4 linked regions of the Homo sapiens genome follow. The protein of the gene in region 4 purifies or fractionates together with the protein of the main gene of each other region. This does not show direct contact. Each region holds a gene or a part of one and is shown on either strand. Other genes may lie near its edges.

Region 1 (3,251 bases), on a different chromosome or scaffold from region 4:
ATTAAATCCTGTCAGCATATTATTGTGTGACAGAGACATCAGAATAAATAGCATGAAGAAAGGAATGAGGTCACATTAAGGAAAATAAGGAAAATAATGTATAATTGTGCTTTTTGGATTGTGGCCAAATTATTTTATTTTTAAACCATAGATTTTTATTTGAAGCTATTTTCATTTAATTGTATGCTTGAAGTTGGGATAAAAAATTTTTTTTTAACTTGAGCTTTGAGTTCTAAAATTCTGGTACTAATCAGACTTCTTCTGTAAAATGCTTTGTGTTTCTGTTTACTCCTTTGATTATCTGAAATGGTACTGTTTTTTTTAAGTCTCTTAAAGGTTTTTTCAGGGATAGCTAACTAAAACTATTTTTTGGATGTTAAACTATTTTTTGGCAATAACCATTTTTGATGAACAGTCTAATAAATTCATGTTAGTGTGTGTGTTAAACCTCCTGTACCCTTAACCTCCACCCCTAAATTCCTTAGGTTGAACAAGTACAGTGATTTGTCATAGAAAGAAACTATTTGTTAAAAACTCTAGGAAAGTGAGTGCTAATTTTAGATTCCTGCCTTTCACCTTTCTTTTCCTAGAATGAAATTAAAGCTCTGTCTGAGGAAAGAACTGCCATTAAAGAGCAGCTGGATTCATCTAATAGTACCATTGCCATTTTACAAACTGAGAAAGACAAACTAGAGTTGGAAATTACAGATTCTAAAAAAGAACAAGATGATCTCTTGGTGCTCTTGGCCGATCAAGATCAGAAAATACTGTCATTGAAGAATAAACTCAAGGATCTTGGTCATCCAGTAAGATTAAAATGTCTCCAAAAATGATTTGTATTATGTTTTAGTATAATGCATTTAAAAGATTTTTAATGTAACATGGAAAAGTTGTGCCTGTATTATAGGAATGGATATGTGGGTTCATGAATATGGTACCATCTATACTGTTTTCACTGTTTTCATTGAATTTACTTAATACACAGATTAGGTTCAGTTTTCAGTACTTACAGACTATTTTCTTTTGGACCGTAAGCCTAGAAAGTGAATTGATTTGATTGGTAACAAGACTGTAGTCACCCAAGCATGTCATTATCTTTTGCCATGTTTGTTTCAGATTTGTGTGTAAAGAGGTGTAGCCATTTATCAGCAAAGTTAACTGATATATCTCATTCATATTAGAAATGACAGAGAGCCTTGGCATCAAATCAAAGAAATCAGATGGCTTATATTCTACTGTAGTTACTAGAATACAAAATTTGTCTGGGCACAGTGCTCACACCTGTAATCCTAGCACTTTGGGGGGCTGAGGTGGGCAGATTACCTGAGGTCAGGGGTTCGAGACCAGCCTGGCCAACATGGTGAAACCCCATCTCTACTAAAAATACAAAAATTAGCAGGGCGCTTGGTGGCAGGCACCTGTAATCCCAGCTACTCGGGAGGCTGAGACAGGATAATCGCTTGAACCTGGCAGGCAGAGGTTGCAGTGAGCCGAGATCGCACCATTGCACTCCAGCCTGGGTAACGAGCAAAACTCCATCTCAGAAAAAAAAAAAATTATCAGTAGTATATATTGTTAAATGTTGAATGTGACATGAACAGATTTTCACAATATTAAATACGTCTTTTTCCTCTAGGTTGAAGAAGAGGATGAACTTGAATCTGGAGACCAAGAGGATGAGGATGATGAAAGTGAAGATCCTGGCAAGGATCTAGATCATATCTAGTTTTCAAATCTCTAGGAACAATAGAGATTATATCATAACTCTGAAGATGGACTCTAAACTTTGGTTTACCTCCATGGAAAATAAAGATTTAGAAACCAGGTGGAAAACATTCACTATTAAGACTATTGATATATTTTTGTAATGTTGCCACCCATGTTGAAAACCTTAAAACTGAATTTATGTAGAACACACATCTTTTATTTAAATCCATCTGAACTGTCCCAAAATGTAATTTGCAAAGAGCTTCAAACACCAAAAATATACCATTTTAAGGCATGTGGTGACAATGCTATTTGCCTTAGTTCATTCGTTGTTTACTTTGCAAAATTTGTGACTTTTAAGTACTAACACATTTGATTGAATGTGTATTGAATTGGAATTATTATTTCTAAATTCAGCATTTGAGTCCTTAGTTGATGATTTTCTTTTAAAGAAATTAGTTTATTTAAAAGCAAGATAGCCTGGGTTGGGAGTTAGTGCATATCATCAGCCCTCCATCTAATGTGATTGCTAAGATGTGCAGGATAGGACAGCTTAGAATGAGTGCCTTGACACCTACATATGGCTGCATTCCATACCTCAGTGAAGAAGCCGAAGGATGCTGACACACAGTGATGTGGAGGGCATTCCGGAGAAACTTTTGCAACAGTGTATTAATGTGATTGGTTTTCTTTTTGTTTTAAGCTAAACATCTAAAACAAATTTCAAGTTAACAGTTCATACAACTCAGATTTAGTAGTATTGTTTATCATAAAACATATTATGTTCCTAGTTTTAAAAAGACCCAAAGTATGATTAATATAATTTATTGGCATTTTTGCTGAATAGGTTTAAGTCAGATAATAGATTTTAAAAAAGCAAATGAGGCAATGTGTCAAAATTTAATGTTTCATAATAAAAATAGATACGTTGACTTAATCCTTGGTCATGGTTCCCTTTGTTTACATCTTAAAAGTATTTTATTCTTAATAAAAGATGAGGCAAGTGAAAATGATGAGGCGACTTTTCTTATTAGGGGTACACAACTATAACTGAATGTTAAAAACAATCTTCTTTAAAACCAATGATTATGATTCCCTAAGATTGGAGGGGGTTAGAAGTACAGAAGTAGAAGAGGTTGGAAAAGGGTTTGGACGTTTTTAAATTCAGCACTGGAGTTCTTGGCAATGATTTCCTGTTGAAGAAGTGGGTTTACTTAAAGACAAGATAGCCTGGGCTAGAAAATAACGTATTTATCTGCCTTCTGGGGTCAGGAATAGGACACAACTTTTGAAAGAGAAGGAAGGTCACTGTCTTGATGAAGGAGACAGCTGTGTGTTACAGAGCACTCGTGAATGCTGCACTGTGCCCATGTTCCACCACTACTGCCATCCTAAGGTGGCACTTGCCATCAGAGAAAGAACTATATTACTGTCACCAGACCAGCTCAGATAGGTGAGGTCTTCCTAAAGTTGACAACCACATAATGAACCATGAGTTAATGACTACCTTTCAGGCTAACGTACGGTTAAAGAAAAATGGATCA
Region 2 (7,041 bases), on a different chromosome or scaffold from region 4:
CCTATAACCCCATCACTTTGGGAGGCTGAGGCGGGCGGATCACCCGAGGTGAAAGCCCGTCTCTAAAAAAAAAAAAAAAAAAAAAAAAATTAGCCGGGCTTGGTGGTGCACGCCTGTAATCCCAGCTACTTGGGAGGCTGAGGCGGAAGAATTGCTTGAACCCGAGAGGCGGAGGTTGCAGTAAGCCACTACACCCGAGCCTGGGTGACAGAGTGAGACGCTGTCTCAAAAAAAAAAAATCAAAACCCACCAAAAACAAAACAAAACAAAGCTTGGAGTACAACTAAGAAAAATGTGCTCAATTTTAAGTATGTAGTTTGAGAAACATATATAGTTACAACACTACCAGCAAAATCAAGACAGAACATTTTCATCAACTGAAGATATGCCCTCCGGCTCCTCTGCAGGCGATCTCCTGGCCCCACCCCACTGGCAACCACTGAACTGGTTGTCACTTTAATTTTTTCTTTTCTAGAATTCATATAAATGGAACCACAGAGTATATAGTCTTTTGTGTCTTTAAAGCTTTTGAGATTCACCGATATTCTTCTTCTTCTTCTTTGTTTTTTTGAGATGGAGTCTTGCTCTGTCGCCCAGGCTGGAGTGCAGTGGCACGATCTCGGCTCACTGTAAGCTTGGCCTCCTGGGTTCACACCATTCTCTTGCCTCAGCCTCCAGAGTGGCTGGGACTACAGGAGCCCGCCACCACGCGCGGCTAACACCGATATTATTTGTGTGGCAGTAATTTGTTCCTTTTTACTTTCTTTTTTTGAGACAGGGTCTCATTCTCTTACCCAGGCTGTAGTGCAGTGGTTCCATCTTGGCTCACTGCAGCCTCCGTCTCCCAGATTTGAATGATTCTCCTGCCTTAGCCACCCTAGTACCTGGGATTACAGGCTTGTGCTACCACACCCGGCTAATTTTTGTATTTTTACTAGAGACAGGTTTTTGCCATGTTGCCCAGGCTGGTCTCAAACTCCTGAGCTCAAGCGATCCACCCGCGTTGGCCTCCCAAAGTGCTGGGATTACAGGTGTGAGCCACCAAGACTGGCCCTTTTTATTGTTAAACAGTATAGTATTTCACTGCATAGACACAACACAGTTTGCATATCCATTCATCAGTTGATGGACATTTGGGTTGTTTCTAGTTTTTGGCTACTGTGCACTAAGCTGCTGTAAACATTTGTGTACAAGTCTTTGTGTGGCCATCTGATTTCATTGTTTTAGTGGAATATCTAGGTAGCAGAACTGCTGAGACATGGGGCATGTGCATGTTTAACTTTATAAGAAACTGCCTGGCCAGGCGTGATGGCTCACACTTGTAATCACAGCACTTTGGGAGGCCGAGGCAGGTGGATCACATGAGGTCAGAAGTTCAAGACCAGCCTGGCCAACATGGTGAAACCCTGTCTCTACTAAAAATCTGAAAAATAGGCTGGCTGCAGTGGCTCATGCCTATAATCCCAGCACTTTGGGAGGCCGAAGTGGGCAAATCACGAGGTCAGGAGTTCGAGACCAGCCTGGCCAACATGGTGAAACCCCTGTCTCTACTAAAAATACAAAAAATTAGCCGGGCATGGTGGCAGGTGCCTGTAATCCCAGCTACCCGGGAGGCTGAGGCAAGAGAATTGCTTGAACCTGGGAGGCGGAGATTGCAGTGAGCCAAGATCATGCCACTGTACTCCAGCCCGGGTGACAGAGTGAGACTCCATCTAAAAAAAAAAAAAAAGTAAAAATATTAGCTGGGCGTGGTGGCACATGCCTGTAATCCCAGCTACTTGGAAGGCTGAGGCAGGAGAATTGCTTGAACCTGGGAGGCGGAGGTTGCAGTGAGCAGATATCATGCCACTGTACTCCAGCCTGAGCAACAAGAGTGAAATTCCGCCTCAAAAAGAAAGAAAAGAAAAGGAAAAAAGAAAAGAAAAAAAGAAACTGTCCAATTGTTTTTCAAAGTATATACCATTTGAGAAGCCTTGTTCCTCATAAATATCATAATGTTCCCTCATTTTGAAATGAGGGAAAGAACTACGCCAGGCACAGTGGCTCATGCCTGTAATCCCAGTACTTTGGGAGGCTGAGGCGGGAGGATCACTTGAGGAATTCGAGACCAGCCTGGGTAACAGTGAGACCCAGTCTCCAGAAAGGAAAAAAAAAAAAAAAAAGAAGTAGGTATATTCACAAGGCAGACATAGCAGTTAAAATAAATCAACTGATCTCTTTTTATCAACATGGATAGATTTTACAAACAATGGCCTCTGAAATAAGCAAACAGCAAAACAATACATGTGGCACTGACACAGGAGGTGCCTGTGGCGAGCTAGGGAAGGAGTGAAGGGCTGAGGAAAGGAACAAGAAGGACTTCAACTTTGCCCTACTGTTTTTATTTTATAAAGTCCTCAAATCAAAATACAAAATGAAACCAGAAAACCCTACAAAGTAAAAATGACAAAATGTGAACATCTGTTAATTCTGGTTGATGGGTTATTACATTATTCTGCTTTTCTATATTTTCTAGACTTTTTATTTTACTTTTTTAGAAAAGGAAATAGTGGCTGGGCGTGGTGGCGCACGCCTGTAATCACAGCTCTTAGGAGTCTGAGGCGGGAGAATCACTTGAATCTGGGAGGTGGCGGCTGCAGTGAGCCAAGATCATGCCACTGCACTCCAGCTTCAAACAACTAAAAAAAACAAAACAAAAAAGGGAATACTGATCTAATACTAACTTTAAAGTTAAAGGGCTTTGATTAGTCTAAAGGGATCTTTCCAGGTGGCGTGGCCATGCCTTAGCCTTTTCTGAAACACAGTCCAGTATTCTGCTTGTTTCCCCGTTACAATAGACATGGATTAAGGAAGTCTTACCACTGAGTGATTAATGTCAAATGCTGGTACAGATGGCTTACCTGTTTGGCAGGTGTGTTATTTGTAGCAGATGGGTACTTGATGTTCTGCAGCTTCTGAAAGGCTTCCTGATACTGCTCAGGGGTGTCAAGGCTGAAGATGCTCTTCCACACTGCAGTCACCCTCTCCACGAAAGGCCCTTCGGTGCCCGTGTTCCAAGTGTGGTAAGAGGAGGAGCTTTTGCCCTCTGAAAGCTGCTTTTCCTCCAGATGCCTGGACAGTAGCTCCAGAAGGCAAAACACCAATCTCTGACCCTGGAACACGACAACAAGGAAGAGGAACTGTTATACAGGGAAAGCACTGGATGATCTCGAGAGCTCTCCCGTGTCCTTCAAAGTATTTCCCTTTGTATCTGCAGCAACCAAAGCACATTAGTGAGCTACCTGCCCCATATGAGTCATGCATGAAAAGAGACAAAAGGGGCGATCTGACAGACACTTCCCAGGTCCCTTTTGGGGGAAATCTATCCTTAGAGCTCAAGAAACCATTTTTATAACACAGAATCCCAACTGTAGCACTACCCACAATGATTTAAGCCACACACAGACCAGCCACTTAAGCCTTGTAGCCTAGTTTGAGGAAAAGAAGGGCTGGGCTCATCAGGTTCTTTCTCCCTGACCAAACTTTGGACTCAGGAATAAAAGCATAATGGGCCAAAGGTGCTGGAATAGACAAGCTTTGCAGATCCAAGAGCTGGGACAGGCATTAGGAGCCATGTCCAAATAGGTTTAATAGAGGAAGCTGGCTGGGAGAGAAGAAAACAGAAGCACAGAGAAGGCCTAGAAAATCTACTTTCACTAGATTTTTAGTTGCCATGAGATTCCTTGTGTACTCCTATAACAATATCTTCTCAGTTAAGCTTGCAAGAGTCTCTGTTGCACAAAACCAAAATAGCCCTTATCAGAATATTTAGCATATGCTTATTAGGTTTTTTTGCTTTGTTAAGGATGCTGTTTAAGAGAAAAATAAAATGCTAAACAGTCATTCTGGAAACTTTTTTTGATGGTGGATAAATTAAAATCTTTCTAGACTTGGTCATTTTATAAATAATGCCCAGTGGCATTATCTTTTAGGGTGTCCTATTTTCACCTCCATTTTTATTCTGCTGTTCCTAGAAAGCTACCTCCCCATGTACCACGTTCCTTGGGCTCTAAATATTCAGCTAAAAACCATCTGTAGGCCCTGTACTCTGTTAGAGAATGAAGAACTTAAAAAACCTCTTGTTAGTATCTCACAAAGTTATCTAAAGTGAATCAAATGTTTACATGTTTCAGAAACTAGGTAAGTGTGCCAATGCTTTAATCTGTTTTGATGTGTCAAAAAGGCAGTGGTATGTTACTGATTTTTAATCAGATGGGAACAAAAAAATTTAAGAAATAAAGAGATTTCCATTTTCCCACACTTTTCTCTTTTTTTTCTGAAGAGTCTCACTCTGTCACGTAGGCTGCAGTGCAGTGACACAATCTTGGTTCATTGCAACCTCTGCCTCCTGGGTTCAAGCAATTCTCCTGCCTTAGCCTCTCAAGTAGCCAAATTACAGATGTGTGCCACCATGCCTGGCTAATTTTTTTATTTTTAGTAGAGACAAGATTTCGCCATGTTGGCCAGGCTGGTCTTGAACTCCTAATCTCAAGCGATCTGCTGCATCTGGCCCAGTTTTTTTTCCATAGCTTACAGTTAAGAGGGGCATTTACAGGTAGAGTTCCATGATTTCTGTTAGAGGCCAACCATTCTCTCTTCAAGGAAGACAGTGCTGATAACATCAATGAAGAAACCCTAGACTGCCAACCCAAGGCCTGGGCTGACTAAGGTGTTTTTTTTTGTGTTTTTTTTTTTTTTTTTGAGACAGAGTCCCACTATGTTGCCCAGGCTGGATCTTGGCTCGCTGCAACCTCCGCCTTCCGGGTTCAAGTGATTCTCCTGCCTCAGCCTCCCAAGTAAGCTAGGATTACAGAAGCGTGCCACCACGCTCGGCTAATTTTTGTATTTTTAGTTGAAACGGGGTTTCACCATGTTGTCCAGGCTTGTCTCAAACTCCTGACCTCAAGTGATCTGCCTGCCTCGGCCTCCCAAAGTGCTGGGATTACAGGCATGAGCCACTGTGCCCGGCTCACAGGTGTTTTGTACAAACAGATAAGCAATGGGAATTACTGTGAATGACCATATTATCTCTTACTCTGAATACGGCAACTAACAAGTCATAGTACTTCAGTGGGATAGCATGGCCAGGGCTTGCTGGGCCTGCCAAATTGGCACAGCTTGTGCAACTGGGTTATTAACTTGGATTTGACTAGAAAAGGATTTGGGACACTTCCCTCTTGTATACTAGGAGATGAAATAACAGACTGACCTGTAGACTTTCATGCAGCTGCAGGGCTTCCTGGGCTCCCACCCAGTTGTTGGCCAGAAGCAGCTCTTGGGCACATCTGAGAGCCAGGGAAGCAGACAACTCATCCTCTCCTACGATGGCAGCCAACTCTGCAGCCGTTCTAAGTGATGCCGCATCCCCCTTTTTGGCCAAAACTTTGGCTGCATCATAAGCACAAGTGGCCCCTAAATAGCTATAATATGAATAAAAATGTGAAGAAAATGTCACAAACAGATTTTTATTCCCATTCCTAGAGGATGGAATCATTTCTTTCTATCTACTTTGCTGCATGTGCCTTCCTGTGGTCCCAGGTATGTCACTGCCCCGGTTGTTCCTGTGAAGGCTGAGGCCAACACAACTCAGCAGAGTGTATGAGAAACAATATCATATAGGTTAAGGACATAAGGAAAATGAGAGGGAATGACTCCTCTGTTGGGTTCAATCCAGCATGGGTTGAGGTTCCTTTATTTGATGTTATAAGAGACCATTAGAAAAATGCATAATTTCTTAATCTGCTGCTGAGGTTTTTCTTGAATAGTTATAGTGATTTATATAAATAAATCAGGAAGTAGTTCCTGATGAGTCTTATGAAACTAAGTTGAATATACATATCTTTTAAATAATTCCTTGCTGCTTTACCTCCACCTCTAAACTTATTACTTGTATTCTTGTCCTCCCCTTCCTGGCAGAAGCTCTCCTATGTTGGAAGCATCCCTCCACTCCTCAGGCTTACCATTTGGCAGCTACAGCATAGTGGCCATCTCTTTCTAGGACGGTTCCCCAGCTGAGGTACAAGTCCTTCAGGACTGGGTCCTCCGGGCGCAGCCGGGCCTTGGCAATCGCAATAGCTTCCCTAAAGGCAAGAACAGACCCTTTAGCCAATCTGAAAAGGCTCCTCTGTGTATGGTCCTAGGAGGGGCTGTAAGACAGGACAAACTGTCCCTTTTGTGTTGTCTTATTGTTCCAACTTCCTTTAAAAACTGCACTTGCATTATATAGACAAATTAGAAACATATGCTGCATTCGTTTCTTCACTTAGATCAGCAGTTCTTAAATTGTGGTCTGTGGATTCCTAGGGGGTCCTCAAGAACCTTTCAGAGGGTTCATGAGGTTAAAACTATTTTCGTAACAATGCTAAGAGTCAGTTATGTGCTTTTTTATTAAAAAAAAAAAAATGTGTTGACATTTGCACTGATTGTGCCAAAGCAGTGATTGGGAAACCTGGCATCTAAGAAGGAAGGCGGTGGCTCTTACAGTGGAAAAAAAGGAAGAATGCCCTTAATGAAGCAGTAAAAATTACAAATTTTACTAAATCCGTCAAGTCCAAAACACTTTAATATTCTGTGTGACAAATGGGAAGAACATTTTGTGTTCTCTGCTGCATTCCAAAGTAGAATGGTTGTCTCTAGGTAACACCTGTATGAACAAATTACAAGCTAAACTGGCTGCTTTTTCATAGAACCTTCTTTCTTCTAAAAAAAAAAAAAATGACTAACATAAATAACAGTTATTCAGTGTTGGGTATTTGGCAGATGTTTTTCTCAAAAATGAACAAAGTAGGCCTATCACTTCATTAAAAACAACCAACAGTATTTGTTACTAATGATAAAATGCGAGTTTTCTAGCAAAAATTAGAATTTTAGAAAACTTGTACCTACCACTTGTGTGCCTGAGTTTCCCATAAGTTAGAATTTTCTGATGAGACTGATGGTGATAGTAAGGAATGTGGTATTTTTGGGTATTTTATAATAAGATATGTTAACATTTGGAAGATC
Region 3 (7,041 bases), on a different chromosome or scaffold from region 4:
GTATCCGTTGGGGAGGGAGGGGGTCCCTGGGACGCCCCCCTCCCCTCAGCCCACCCTTGACAAGGGTGGCAAGACATTCAGGGTATACAACTAAAAGATGGGTAAGACTGTGAATAAAGCAAACTTGAGTAGGGGAGGGAGGCTGAAGGATCCCCCCTCAGGGGAGACCCTGTACTGTGTAAACGAAGCCTGTCCAGTTCTCAGGGGACAATACTGATGGCAGCCAAACTGGGCAAGGATGCAGTGTGGGGGCGGAGGGGGCATGACCTCTATTCAAGTTCTGTGTCTTGGCCCCTGGCTGAGGTATTGAGTGTGAGGAAGGGAACACTGGGCTGCAGGAGTGGGTCCAACTGTCCAGGAGGCTGCACTAGGAGATGGGTGGACAGAGCACTTAAAGGGACCAGGGCCAAATTCAATGCTACATTTAGAGAGAAAACTGCCCCCTCTTCACTCCAGCCCAGTTTGGCTTTTGGGGTGCGACTTTAGAAATCTTATCAGTGCAGCCCCCAGCTCAATCCCATCTTTCCTCCCTGCTGGGAAGGCAGGGACCAAGCCCCAGTACCTATTCATCTCTCTCTAGGTCAGAGCTTCTTCCTCACACTGGAGGGGAAGCCTGGGTCCCGAGTAGCCACGGTCCCTTGTCGGCCCTGCCCCTCCTACCATCTTTGGCTTCAGATCAGGAGTGACTGGGGCAGTGGGTACTCTTGGACATAACGGAAGGTGGAGGCAGATAGGGAGCACAGATAAACTATGGGCTTGGCGGCACAGGAGGAAGAACATGGTCCCTCCCTCCATATACATGCAAACACATGCCTGAAACACAGTGGACATACTAGGGCTGTGGTTTTGAAATGGGCAGGAAATTAATTTGTTTCTTCCCCTAAAGGATAAAACGCTTACTTAAAAATTCATGACAAGCCTCAAAGTTCAAGGGAAGGAGAGCCAGGGCAGGAATGACCACAGGCTCTGCCCTCCCAAAAGAAGATAAAAGAAAGAAGCAAGGTTAAAGTGCGTGGTTAGGGGCCAGGCTAGGAGTGGGAGGGAATGGGGAGGGGGCAGGCTGTGGGGGCAGAACCAGCCCTTGATTTGCATATGAGGAGCCAGGGGAGAGTGCAGGATTGGGGCCCAGGTACAGTAGTTGCTGCTTCAAGTGTTTTGCATTTGAACTTTAGGGGTGATAGGGTACAGAAGTGGGGAAAAAGCTCCAGGCCCCAGTGCTAAATATCCTCCCCCCTCATCCTCTAGCTGCCCCTGAAGGGGGGAGGGGGACACCCCCAGAGTGCTCACACAGTACCAGAAATTAAGGCTTCTCACTGCTGCGGGGATGGAGGGACCGGCCGAGCAGGGAGGCAGTGATGGGTATGGAAGAAGAGGGGATCTGCCTGGCAGTAGGGGCAGGGGAGAAGGGGGACACAGAGAGGAGTCCCCAGGGAAGAGTCGGGGGAGCTGGCAGCAGAAAGAGGGAACCAAGAGATGGAGTCAAAGAGTGGGGGAGCCAGGCATTTAGCAATCATTTTGGGACACTTGGCAGAAGGGGTCGCCCTGGGGGTACCAAGGGCCTGGGGTGCTCCCTGTCAGTCCCAGACCCCTGCCAGGCCAAGATGGTGTGGCAAAGGGGTGAGCAGCTGCTCCCCAGGGCTTCCTTCCCCTCCGCCCCCTCCACCCAGTCGTGTTCTCCTTTAAAGTGCCCTAAATGTTTAGACTTTTTCTAAATAAATAGAATTAGATATCAAGCCACCGGCGGGGGAGGGACACTGGAGGGGGCTACTCAGAGTAGCAGCCATCTAACCCAATGGCGCCGGGCCGCTCCTGGCTGTAGGGGCAGGAGGCCCCATGGGGCAGGGCGCCGCAGCCACCCACCGTCTTGGCGGCTGCAATGCTGCAGTTCTTGAGCAGGCTGAAGCTGAAAGGACTGACGGCGTCCTTGGGTGGGAAAGGCTTCATGGTGGAAAGGATCAAGGCCAGGCAGTCTGCCACATCTTTGTTGGGGGCACAGGCCAGTGCTGGGGTGTGACCTGCAGGGCCAAGGGGGAGAACTGAGGCATAGAGTCCTGTATCCTAGCCAGCCTCCCCCAAGCCCTGAAGTCTCTTCTCTGTGGAGGGAGCCAAGGCAGGCAGGTACCCAGCAGCGGCAGAATCCAAGGGTGACGAGGGCCCAGGAAGGCTGACAGGCAGATTCTCTAAGTACGGGTTAAAGGGCGGGCATGGGAGTCAAAGCCTAGGGTGTGGAGTCCTCCTGACCCTGCAGGCTCCCCTCTGAGACTCCAGAGTACTGGTGTGGGCTCCCTGCTCTGAAGAGTTCCCTTGGGAAGAAAATCCCATGTATAGCAAGATTAAGAAGTCACCTCCTGAAGAATGTCCCTGACCCCAAACCCAAGAGAGGCATGGGGCCCCAGACCCCACCCACCTTCTTCATCCACAGCCAGCACTGTGGCCCCATGACTCAGCAGGGCCTGTACCACAGAAGCTAGACCATTCCGGGCAGCAATGTGGAGTGGCCTTGGAAAAAAGGAAAAAGAAGGAGCTTGATGCTAAGCTGCCCTTCCACCTCCAGACAGGGTGGCAAGGGTGCTGAACAAATACAATGGGCTCCAGAGAGCCTCTGAACAGCGGCCACTCTTTCATCACCCACTGGCCTCCCCCAGCCAGGAGCCCCCTTCCCCAGGCACTCACATCTGCAGCGCACTGTTGGTAGCATTGATAAGGCCAAGGTCTTGGGTTTCTGCCAGGATCATGAGGGCACATTTCTCATGGCCCTGAGGGAGGGGAACAGAGAGTGGAGACTTGTGAAGTAGAAATGTGGCAGGGTGCAGGGCAGGAGTTGGGGAGAGTAACAGGAGGACAAACAGCTGCCCAACCAGTCGGATAGGCTGGACAATCCTCACTTCTGCCCCAGTCCCCTCTGCAACCGAGACTTACCTCTCTTCATCAAGCTCTGCCCCTTATGCAGTCCCCCAATCACTTCAGGTAAGTACCTTGCTACAAGCCAAGTGGAGGGCCGTGTTCTTGTTCTCATCCAACACAGTAAGGTCTGCCTTCCCTCGATACAGCAGAAATTCTACGAGAGAAATGTGATAGAGGGACTGACCCCTCCCTCCAGAGCAGTAGCCATCCTGGCTCTCCACTTTGCATCCCGTCTGCAGATGGCGAGACATCCAAAGACAACCCTCTTGCTTTCTGAACCCCAGCCCCAGCCAGCCTCCACAGGCAGGGCTGACCCATCCTGCAAATGCCCCAGGGGAGCTCCTCCCTTCCACAAGTGGCCCCTACACACCCACAGCAGCGGTCTGCCCGTTCTCAGCCGCCGTCATGAGCGCAGTGCGGCCAGTGTGGTCAGTGGCGTTCACCTCAGCTTGATGCTGCAGCAGCATCCGGAGCCCAGAGACATTGTCCGCGAAGGCAGCGGCGTGAAGGGGGGTCCTGTAAGGCAGGGATCAGGGTAGATTAAAATAGGGAAGAGTATACTGCCCAAGCAGAAAGGGGAAGCCAGAGGCAACTGGGATTCTTCCCAAGTCTTCCATCACTCACCGTCCTTTGGCATCTCGGCTGTTCACAATCTTGGCACCCAGAGCTCCCAGTAGCATCTCTGTGGTGCTGTCTTGGTTATTAATCCTAGAGGAAGAGGGAGGAGGGGTCATCAGGAAGGACAAGGGAAGTAGACTACCTGTCCTAAGCTCAAGTCATGGGCCCTCGCGAGAAGGGCTGATGCAGCAGAAGGGACTTACACTGCACAGTGCAAAGGAGTGAAGGGGTTTCCTTCCAGGTACGAAAACGGGCTGTGTTCAAGTAACAACTCCAGACAATCTTCATGTCCTGGGCACGAGGAAGGAAGAGTAGTGATGGAGAAAAACGGCAAGGTTCCCTGTCTGTCCTGTGTCTTGACACTCCATTCCACTTCCAGATTCAGATCAACCCAGGTCCCCCCCAACAACCCACCTGTCCCCCTCTACACACACTCCAACACATGCTCCTGTGCCTGTGGAGGCCCCAGTCTAGTACCAGTGTAGGAGGCCCAGTGCATGGGCGAGTATCCGCTGTAATCCACCCCGGCATCCAGGGGATCTGTGGAAAGGGCAGCCTGCAGCAGGGTCCGCAGTACTGCAGTGTGGCCACAGGCTGAGGCCAGGTGAATGGGCGTGCGGCCCTTAAAGTCTCGGCACAGCACAAATGCGTCGTGGTCCAGCAGGGCAGCCAGGCAGTCCTCACAGCCAGTCACTGCCTGTGAGTAACATGGGGGTGTGAGGGGGATGAAAAGCTCCTCCTTTTCCACTGGCCTGTTGCTGGAGTCTGGCTCAGGAGTAAGAACCACTTCCAGGGCTCCAATCCTTGTCTTTTTTTTTTTTTTTTTTTTTTTGGAGTCGGAGTCTTGCTCTGTCGCCCAGGCTGGAGTGCAGTGGCATAATCTCGGCTCACTGCAACCTCTGCCTCCCCGGTTCAAGCGATTCTCCTGCCTCAGCCTCCCAAGTAGCTGGGATTACAGGCAGGTGCCACCATGCCCGGCCAATTTTTTTGTATTTTTAGTAGAGACAGGGTTTCACCACGTTAGCCAGGATGGTCTTGATCTCCTCACCTCGTGATCCGCCTGCCTCGGCCTCCCAAAGTGCTGGGATTACAGGCATGAGCCACTGGCCTCAATCCTTGTCTTTACAACAATAATTCTTTCTTTTTTTGAGACGGAGTCTCACTCTGTCACCCAGGCTGGAGTGCAATGGTGCGATCTTGGCTCACTGCAACCTCTGCCTCCCAGGTTCCAGCAATTCTCCTGTCTCAGCCTCCCAAGTAGCTGGGATTATAGGCATGCACCACCATGCCCAATTAATTTTTGTATTTTTAGTAGAGGCGAAGTTTCACCATGTTGGCCAGGCTGGTCTCAAACTCCTGACTTCAGGTGATCTGCCCGCCTTGGCCTTCCAAAGTGCTGGGATTACAGACGTGAGCCACCATGCCCGGCCCTTTACAACAACAATTCTAAGTATTAGGGACCCACATCTCCCTCCTTGACTCTCTCTATGCCAGCAGACAATCAGGATACTAAGAGTTAATACTGGAGCTCTGGAGTTAATACTGGAAAGACTAAATGGAGAGAAGGAGACTAAGGGATCAAAAAATCTTATGGGAGGAGGAGGCAGCTTAGGACAGGTGGTCACGGAAGAGGATCTAGGTTGTGGCGACATTATGCGATGGGTTGGGGCCAGCAGGGTATCCCAGGTAGAGTCTGGGTGGTGAGCACTCAGTTGTACGTGATTACAAAGCACAGATATTGGCCAGGCACAGTGGCTCACGCCTGTAATCCCAACCCTTTGGGAGGCCAAGGCGGGTGGATCTCATCATCAGGAGATTGAGACTACCCTGGCTAACACGGTGAAACCCTGTCTCTACTAAAAATACAAAAATTAGCCAGGCGTGGTGGCAGGCGCCTGTAATCCCAGCTACTCGGGAGGCTGAGGCAGGAGAATTGCTTGAACCCAGGAGGCGGAGGTTGCAGTGAGCCGAGATCACGCCACTGCACTCCAGCCTGGGTGACAGAGCGAGACTCTATCTCAATAATAATAATAATAATAATAATAATAATAATAATAATAATAATAATAATAATAAACAAAGCACAGATATCAGGGAAATCAGCTGGGGACGTCAGGAACTCATCCTGGAGCAAGCACAAAGCTCAATAAAATCCTGGGCACAGCGTGGGTCTGGTGGCTCATGCCTGTAATCCCAGCACTTCGGGAGGCCAAGGTGGGGGGATCACTTGAACCCAGGAGTTCAAGACCAGCTTGGGCAAGATGGTAAGACCCCCATATCTACAAAAAATACAAAAATTAGCTGGGCATGATGGCATGTGCCTACAGTTTCAGCTACTTAGGAGGCTGAGGTGCGAGAATCACCTGAGCCCAGGAAGTCAAGGCTGCAGTGAGCTGTGATAGTGTCACTGCACTCCAACCTGGGCAATGGGAGTGAGACCCTGTCTCAAAAAAAAAAAAAAAAAAGAAAAAGAAAAAAGACGGCACAAAATCCTGGCTTGCCTCCTAGACAATTGGATTCCCTACTGCTGGTGAGTCCCATGCTCCCACACTGAGGCCCATGTGCAAACAATCCCCCCTAGAAGCTCACTCACCCCGCGGTGGAGGGCAGTGCGGCCCCGGAGGTCAGCAGCATCAGCTGTGGATCCTTTCTCTAGCAGCAGATGTACACAGTCCACATGGCCATTCATGATGGCCAGCATCAGTGGGGTCCTACAGAAGGGCAGGAGGAGGAGTGAGGATCCCGCAAGGACTGGAAAACCTGCACCCCACCCTGGCCCACACTCACTGTCCATAGGCATCCATGACATCTGTGATGTCAGCTCGTTCCCCACTGTCGATCAGCAAGTGCAGGGAGTCAGTGTGGCCAGAGGCAGCTAGGGGAAAGGGACCCCGTGTCAGGGCAGGGCCAGGAGGAAGAAGGGAGGCAAGGTCAAGCCTAAAGGACTTGGGGTCAATGTTACAGAAAGACCTGGGCCAGGGAGAAATCTCTGAGGATAGGAAGCTATGAATCAGGGCTTGAAGTCTCCATTCTCCTCACCCTACTCCACTTTCCAGCCCCATTCCCATCCAGGAGGGATCTGGCATGGCAAGGGTAGGGCAGCAGCCTAAAGTGGGCACTAACCAGCAGCGTGCAGGGGTGTCCACTTGCGCTTGCGCTCCTTGATGAGGGCAGAGGCGCCGTGGGCTGTAAGCACCTCCACACACTCAGTAGAGCCGCGCTCCGTGGCCAGGAAGAGTGCGGTCCGGCCCTTGTGGTCCCTTACGTCCAGATTCACCAGCGTCTCCGCCAGCGTCTTCAAGGCTTCACAGTGACCGTTGTAGGCCTGGCAAGGTGCAGGCAACCAGTGCACACAGCTCGGGACCTTCCCTGCTCCTCCCTTCCCCTTCTCTGCTCTTGGGGTCCCTGGGAAGCTCAAGGTCTTAGTCCTTGACAAGCTCCTTGGGCCCCTTAAGGCTTCCTACCCTGCACTGTGCTTATCCCCTCTCCCACAAAAAGGCAGAAGGAAGGATAACTTCA
Region 4 (5,211 bases):
CCAGCCACACTGGCCTCGCTCTCCTGCAAATGCACCAAGGAAGCTCCTACCACAGGGCCTTTGCGCCTGCTGGTCCCTCTACTTAGAGCTCCCTTCCCCAGATATCAGCGTGGCTCCCTGTCTTACTTCCTGGGGGCTCACCTCAACCATGACCTCCTCTGAGAGGCCCTCTCTGACCACCTCATCGAAAACATCACCCTCCTTCTCCCTCATGTGTCTTTAGAACTCTTGCTACCACCTGAAATGATGTTACTAGCCTATTTGTTGATGTGTTTGCTGGGTCTCTCCCATATTATCTGTGTGTGTGTTGTAAGCCCTGTGCAGGGACAGGGTCTGTGCTTTGTTCATGGCTGCATCCTCAATGCCTAGCACAGAGCGTGGCACGTGGCCTTTGATTGTAAATCTCACTGAAGCAAACAATTGAAGGAAGCCACAGAGGAGAACTGGACCCTGTCAAGCAGCAACGTCAGTGCTATTTTTCAGAGAAGAAAGAAAAACTTCGTGCTTTACTAAAAGAACCAAATTTACTTCAGTTTAAGGCAAATTCCACACAGAGACTGTCTCAGAGACGGGCACAGAACCAGACACCGTAGAAACACCACCACCATGCATGACGGGGAAGCAGAGGCAGGCGGAAGACGGGGGCCTGGCCTGCACCAGGCACGGAGAGGTCAGTGGGCTGAGGAGCTCCATGCGGCAACAGGGATTGGCATGCATGATCTGCTCCCCGAGTGGGCAAAGGCTGGGCAGCTGGGTGGGCCCGGGAGGGAGATCCCCTTCTTCCCCACCTTTCCCACAGCAGGGGCAGGAGCTCGGGCTCAGATGCCAGAGCCCCAGGCTGAAGGACTAGGGTATGTTTGGGGTGATGGGATGAGACAGGGTGACCCAAAAGCCAAGGCGGCCTCAAGTAGGGTCACATCTGTTAGGAGTAGGATGGGGGGAACTGGGCATGGGATGAATGACCCTCAGGATGTCAGACCTAAAGGAAAACCTGGGGCCATCTGGTCAACCCTCTTGTGGTACAGACATGGAAACTGAGGCCCAAAAGGTAGAAGGGCCTTGCTTGGGTTCCCACATTAGGCAGTGGGGGGAGGCAGGGCTCAAACCCAGGACTCCTGTCTCCTAGCCTCATGGGATACAGGGCAAAGAGCAGGAGCAGTGTGGGAACGTGGGGCTGAGCCACTCCTTACTCAGGCCTCCAGATGGGCAGAGGCGTGGGCACCGAGGGCCCTGGGAAGCCTCTGGAGGGAGGAAGGGATTCCTGAAGCCAGGAGTCAACCATGGAAGTACCTGTGGGCCCACACCAGGGAGAGGCCTCCACAGGCCATCTGTGTGTCTAGAACTTGCATCGTACTGAGTTCGAGAGGCACCAGAAAGGGCTCTGTGCTGAGCAGCCTCCACTTCAGGCCCATCACATGGCCTACGGTCCATGATTACAGCACCCCATGGGGTCCCCGGGGCTCCCAGCGCATCCAGTGTCCCTGGGAGGGTGCACATGTTCAGGCCTTCCTGCAAACCCATCAGCTTCATGGGGTTCACTGGAAATCGGGCACAGGATAGACCACAGGGCGGGGCTCAGGGACAGGAGTAGACACCATGGGAGGATGGGACGGAGATGGGGGGCTGGAGGAGGCCAAGCCCAGGCTTCAGGGTGACAGGTAAGCAAATAGGATTGCCGGGGGTGGGCGACAGGGACCCCAATCACCCTTATTGTTTACACCTTCCTGGCTGGGTTAGAGCCAGGTATTGGGGAAGAAGAGAAGGGCTGGGTCCCTGTGTACCCCTCTTTCACCCGTACCCCCCTAACTCCCTGGGTTTGGGCAATAAGTGAGGCCAAGAAATTGAGGAGGGGTCTTCAGAAGCCCCACCCCCTGGCAGCCTCCCAGGCACACAGATGTCCCAAAGGCCGGGCAGGCCAACTTCGGGGAGTCTGGGGCCCTGGCCTCCCATTCACCTGGCCTCTCCCAGGCCCCAGCCACCTGCCTGCTGAGACCAGGTTCAGATGTGCGTGTGCAGGGGGGACGCAGGGGGCGTGCGGGCTGGGGACTGCGAGGGCGAGTGGGTTGGTGCTGCGGGTGGGGGACGCGGGCGAATGCCCTGTGCCTTCATGTAGGACACCAGTTGGTCAGGGATCTCTGCCAGCACGTCTCGGGCCAGGCGGGCCATGCTCAGCACGTGGTTGCCTGTGCGGTCCACGTAGTCCCGGAAGGGTACAAACTGGCAAGTGGGAGGGCAGGGTCAGGCAGTGCCTCCTGTGGGACCCTGGCCCCCAAAATCTCCAGGCCTGGGGTTGCATCCCCACCCCCCTCCCAGCCTCTGCTCACTTGACTCAATCCCCCCACCTTTCTGAATTACCTGAGGGACTGTATCCCTCAACTCCCTGGGTTTGGGCAGTCAGTAACTATAGTCATAGTCACTATTCTTTCATTCACTCGACAAAAACTGAGCCCTATTCCACACCAGGACACACCACTGAACACGATTTCTCCACCTCGGCACTAAGCACAGGCTCTGAGTAGGTGCTTCCGAAATGCCAACTGAATCCCTGACTTCTGGGGCACGTGCCCTCCTGGGTTTCCCCCGACCTGTCCAGCAGAGCCCTCTCTCTCTGGCCTCTCTTCGTTCCTTTTCTCTCTGGGGCTAATCTGGCCAATGCCTAATGCCAGGCCCATCTGGCTTCTTCCCGGGGGTGCCCTCCATCCTGAGCGCCTCTTCTGGCTCACTCCTGCCTCCAGGCCTTAGCATGGGCCGGTCCCACCTCCCAGGTTGTCTTGCTCTGGTTTCCAGCCCCCTATGTTTGGTCTCCACACCTGGGATACTGGGCCCCAATTTTTAAACCAAGGGGGTATGCAGGATGTCAGCTTTGTCTTCTGCATCTCCTAAGCACTAGGGCCTCCTCTGCAGGGGATGAGTGGGGGAAGTGCTTGCGGAGGGTGCATTCTTCCACGTGAGACTGCATGGGAATTCCCTGAGGACAAAGGTCTTTCTGCTCATTATATTTGCACCGTTCATGGAGATGCTTACATTGATTCAGTTAACCGAGCAATGCCTATTCTTGGAGAAGGCTGCAGCAACACTAAAGACACTGCCTCAGCCTTCAAGGGGCAGAAAAAAACCAGAACGAGGCTGACCACAGAGGCCTGGAGGCTGAGGAAGGGCTGGCAGAGGGTTCTGGCCTCTGGCTGGGCACCCGCAATGTTAGGAGTGTGTCCCAGATGTGACAGAGGGGGGCCCAGCCCAGACCACAGCATGGCCGAGGACTGACTCCTACTCCCTTCGGTGGTGGCTGGGCCACTTTGGGGCTCCCAGTGCCTCCCTTCTGGGCCCTTCACCAGGGAAGCCCCCAAAGGGGGTGTGAGGTCCGCCTGGCTAGAGGGGCTCTTGAATTTCCCATGGGGCAGGCAAGGCCTGGGCTTCACCTGGACGATGTCGCGTTCAGCCAGCTTCCCCCGGGAGGAGATCCGCACGTCGTCGCCATCCAGCTCCACCATGGCTGTGAGGGGAGGAGTGTCATGGGGCGGGGTGAGATTAACGGTGGACCCCTGGCCCTAGCAGGAGAGTGGACTTGTCCTTTCATCCCAGGCCAATCCAGGGCCGAGACCACTGGCCCATGCCCCGTGTTAGAGATGAGGAAACTGAGGCCAGGGGCCAGGAGGAGCCCGATCAGGTGAGCCTCTGACTTTGAGCCCAGTGCTTTGGTTCACCACCCTCCCCAGACTCCCAGGGCTGGAGGAGAAAGAAGTGACTTGGGGCCTCCTCCCCACAGCCTTGGGATGTGGGTGTGGGTGCACACCCAGACCTGACACACCCTTCCCTGAGCAAACAAATGCGTCCCACACCCTGCACACTCACCCAGACACACACGCCCAGGCGGGAGCTCTCACTCTTTTGGGAGGGGTCATTCCCAGGGGACCACAGCCTCTGGGGAAACATCTGGGGTGGGGGCAGGGTTGCGTGGCTAGGGAAGGAAAGGAGGGGAAGGCAGCAGCTGGACTCACCGTCGAACTCTGCCTGGCCCACGCCGACGATAATGATGGACATGGGGAGCTTGGCAGCCTGGGAGACAGCATGGGGGGCAGGGAAAGGTTGGACCCAATTGGGACCCAGTTAAAAGGAAGGAGAAATCAGGGGTAGGACAGGAAGGGGTGGGCAGGAAAGAAATGGGAGAGTGAACATGGAGAGACAGAGAAACACAGAAAAGGGGGTAGGGAGAGGGAGGGCACTCAGAGATAAAGAGCAAAGGAAACCAGGCTGCGCCTGGAGGAGAGAGGGAGGGTGGCAGGGGGAATGGGTCATAGGTCTGCTTTGGTGAGTCACCCCCATCCCCTCTTACAGGGAGACCACCGGCTTGGGGAGCCATGTTCCTGAGCTTCCCCAACTCTGAGCCTCCCCTCCCACTCCTTTGACCTGGCCAGGCTGGCCTGGGAAAGGGGGAAGCGGTCCTAGAGATGGGTTAATGAGGGAGTCATTGGGGTCTGGAGGGAGTAGACCAGAGCGTGACTAAGAGGTGGGAACAGAGCTCACCAGCCAGATCTCTCATGATCTGGGCACCCCTTCCACCCGCTAGAATCCACTATCCAGCACCGGACTCTGCAGCCAGAGGCCAGAAGGTGGATGAGGGCAGTGGGGCCCAGTGAGGCAGGGAAATGAGAAGCCACGCCCAAGTCATCTCCAAGCATTTCCCTAAGGTCAAGGAGGTAGGCACATCCCCAGGGTTCCCCTAACGGGGAGGAAGACACTCCTCAAACCGCCTCCCCCACCGCACACTCCTTGCTTACGTTGACAATGGCCTCCTTGGTCTGCGCCATGTCCGAGATGACCCCATCAGTAATGATGAGCAGCACCGAGTACTGGGAGCCATCCTGCACGGCCGCTGCATTCCTGGGTGGGGCAGGTGTGGGCTCAGGTCTGTCTGCGGGACCTCTGGGCATGTTCCCCCCTAAACAAGGACCCTGAACACTTTGGAGGGTGACAGCTCTTGGGGGAATCTCTTCAGGGTCAGGGCTCCCTGAAAGGCAAGTGCGTGGGAAGAGAAACCCCCTCCCACCACCCAGAGGCAGAGCTGGTGTGGAAACAGAGGCCTTGTGAGTGCCTGGAGGCGGTGGCAGCGGCACTCACCTGGCCACGTGGGTGACCACGGGGGCAAAGTTGGTGGGGCCGTACAGCTGCACAGTGCGCAGGCTGCGGTGGTAGGCCTCCAGGATGCCGTCG

The links.
Region 1: the proteins of CPNE5 (region 4) and USO1 purify together in Homo sapiens (affinity purification with mass spectrometry; 2 studies listed by BioGRID and IntAct, with this or other methods). This does not show direct contact.
Region 2: the proteins of CPNE5 (region 4) and GEMIN5 purify together in Homo sapiens (affinity purification with mass spectrometry; 2 studies listed by BioGRID and IntAct, with this or other methods). This does not show direct contact.
Region 3: the proteins of CPNE5 (region 4) and ANKRD52 purify together in Homo sapiens (affinity purification with mass spectrometry; 2 studies listed by BioGRID and IntAct, with this or other methods). This does not show direct contact.

Annotation. Positions count from the first base shown.
Region 1 is NC_000004.12:75,811,570-75,814,820, forward strand, and holds the end of USO1 (general vesicular transport factor p115), read left to right. Parts: intron 1-590; coding exon 591-806; intron 807-1,636; coding exon 1,637-1,726; 3' UTR 1,727-2,717; downstream 2,718-3,251. UniProt on the Homo sapiens protein: General vesicular transport factor required for intercisternal transport in the Golgi stack; it is required for transcytotic fusion and/or subsequent binding of the vesicles to the target membrane.
Region 2 is NC_000005.10:154,893,192-154,900,232, forward strand, and holds part of GEMIN5 (gem-associated protein 5), read right to left. Parts: intron 6,120-7,041; coding exon 6,000-6,119; intron 5,460-5,999; coding exon 5,249-5,459; intron 3,153-5,248; coding exon 2,901-3,152; intron 1-2,900. UniProt on the Homo sapiens protein: The SMN complex catalyzes the assembly of small nuclear ribonucleoproteins (snRNPs), the building blocks of the spliceosome, and thereby plays an important role in the splicing of cellular pre-mRNAs.
Region 3 is NC_000012.12:56,241,378-56,248,418, forward strand, and holds part of ANKRD52 (serine/threonine-protein phosphatase 6 regulatory ankyrin repeat subunit C), read right to left. Parts: intron 6,848-7,041; coding exon 6,646-6,847; intron 6,398-6,645; coding exon 6,310-6,397; intron 6,234-6,309; coding exon 6,116-6,233; intron 4,220-6,115; coding exon 4,000-4,219; intron 3,814-3,999; coding exon 3,726-3,813; intron 3,613-3,725; coding exon 3,529-3,612; intron 3,421-3,528; coding exon 3,275-3,420; intron 3,059-3,274; coding exon 2,976-3,058; intron 2,757-2,975; coding exon 2,674-2,756; intron 2,500-2,673; coding exon 2,408-2,499; intron 2,016-2,407; coding exon 1,765-2,015; 3' UTR 1-1,764. UniProt on the Homo sapiens protein: Putative regulatory subunit of protein phosphatase 6 (PP6) that may be involved in the recognition of phosphoprotein substrates.
Region 4 is NC_000006.12:36,740,270-36,745,480, forward strand, and holds the end of CPNE5 (copine-5), read right to left. Parts: coding exon 5,119-5,211; intron 4,882-5,118; coding exon 4,779-4,881; intron 4,258-4,778; coding exon of another isoform or gene 4,108-4,257; exon of another isoform or gene 4,063-4,107; intron 4,057-4,062; coding exon 3,999-4,056; coding exon of another isoform or gene 3,853-3,998; intron 3,494-3,852; coding exon 3,420-3,493; coding exon of another isoform or gene 3,021-3,419; exon of another isoform or gene 2,982-3,020; intron 2,218-2,981; coding exon 1,999-2,217; 3' UTR 1,482-1,998; coding exon of another isoform or gene 1,434-1,481; 3' UTR 506-1,433; downstream 1-505. UniProt on the Homo sapiens protein: Probable calcium-dependent phospholipid-binding protein that may play a role in calcium-mediated intracellular processes. Plays a role in dendrite formation by melanocytes.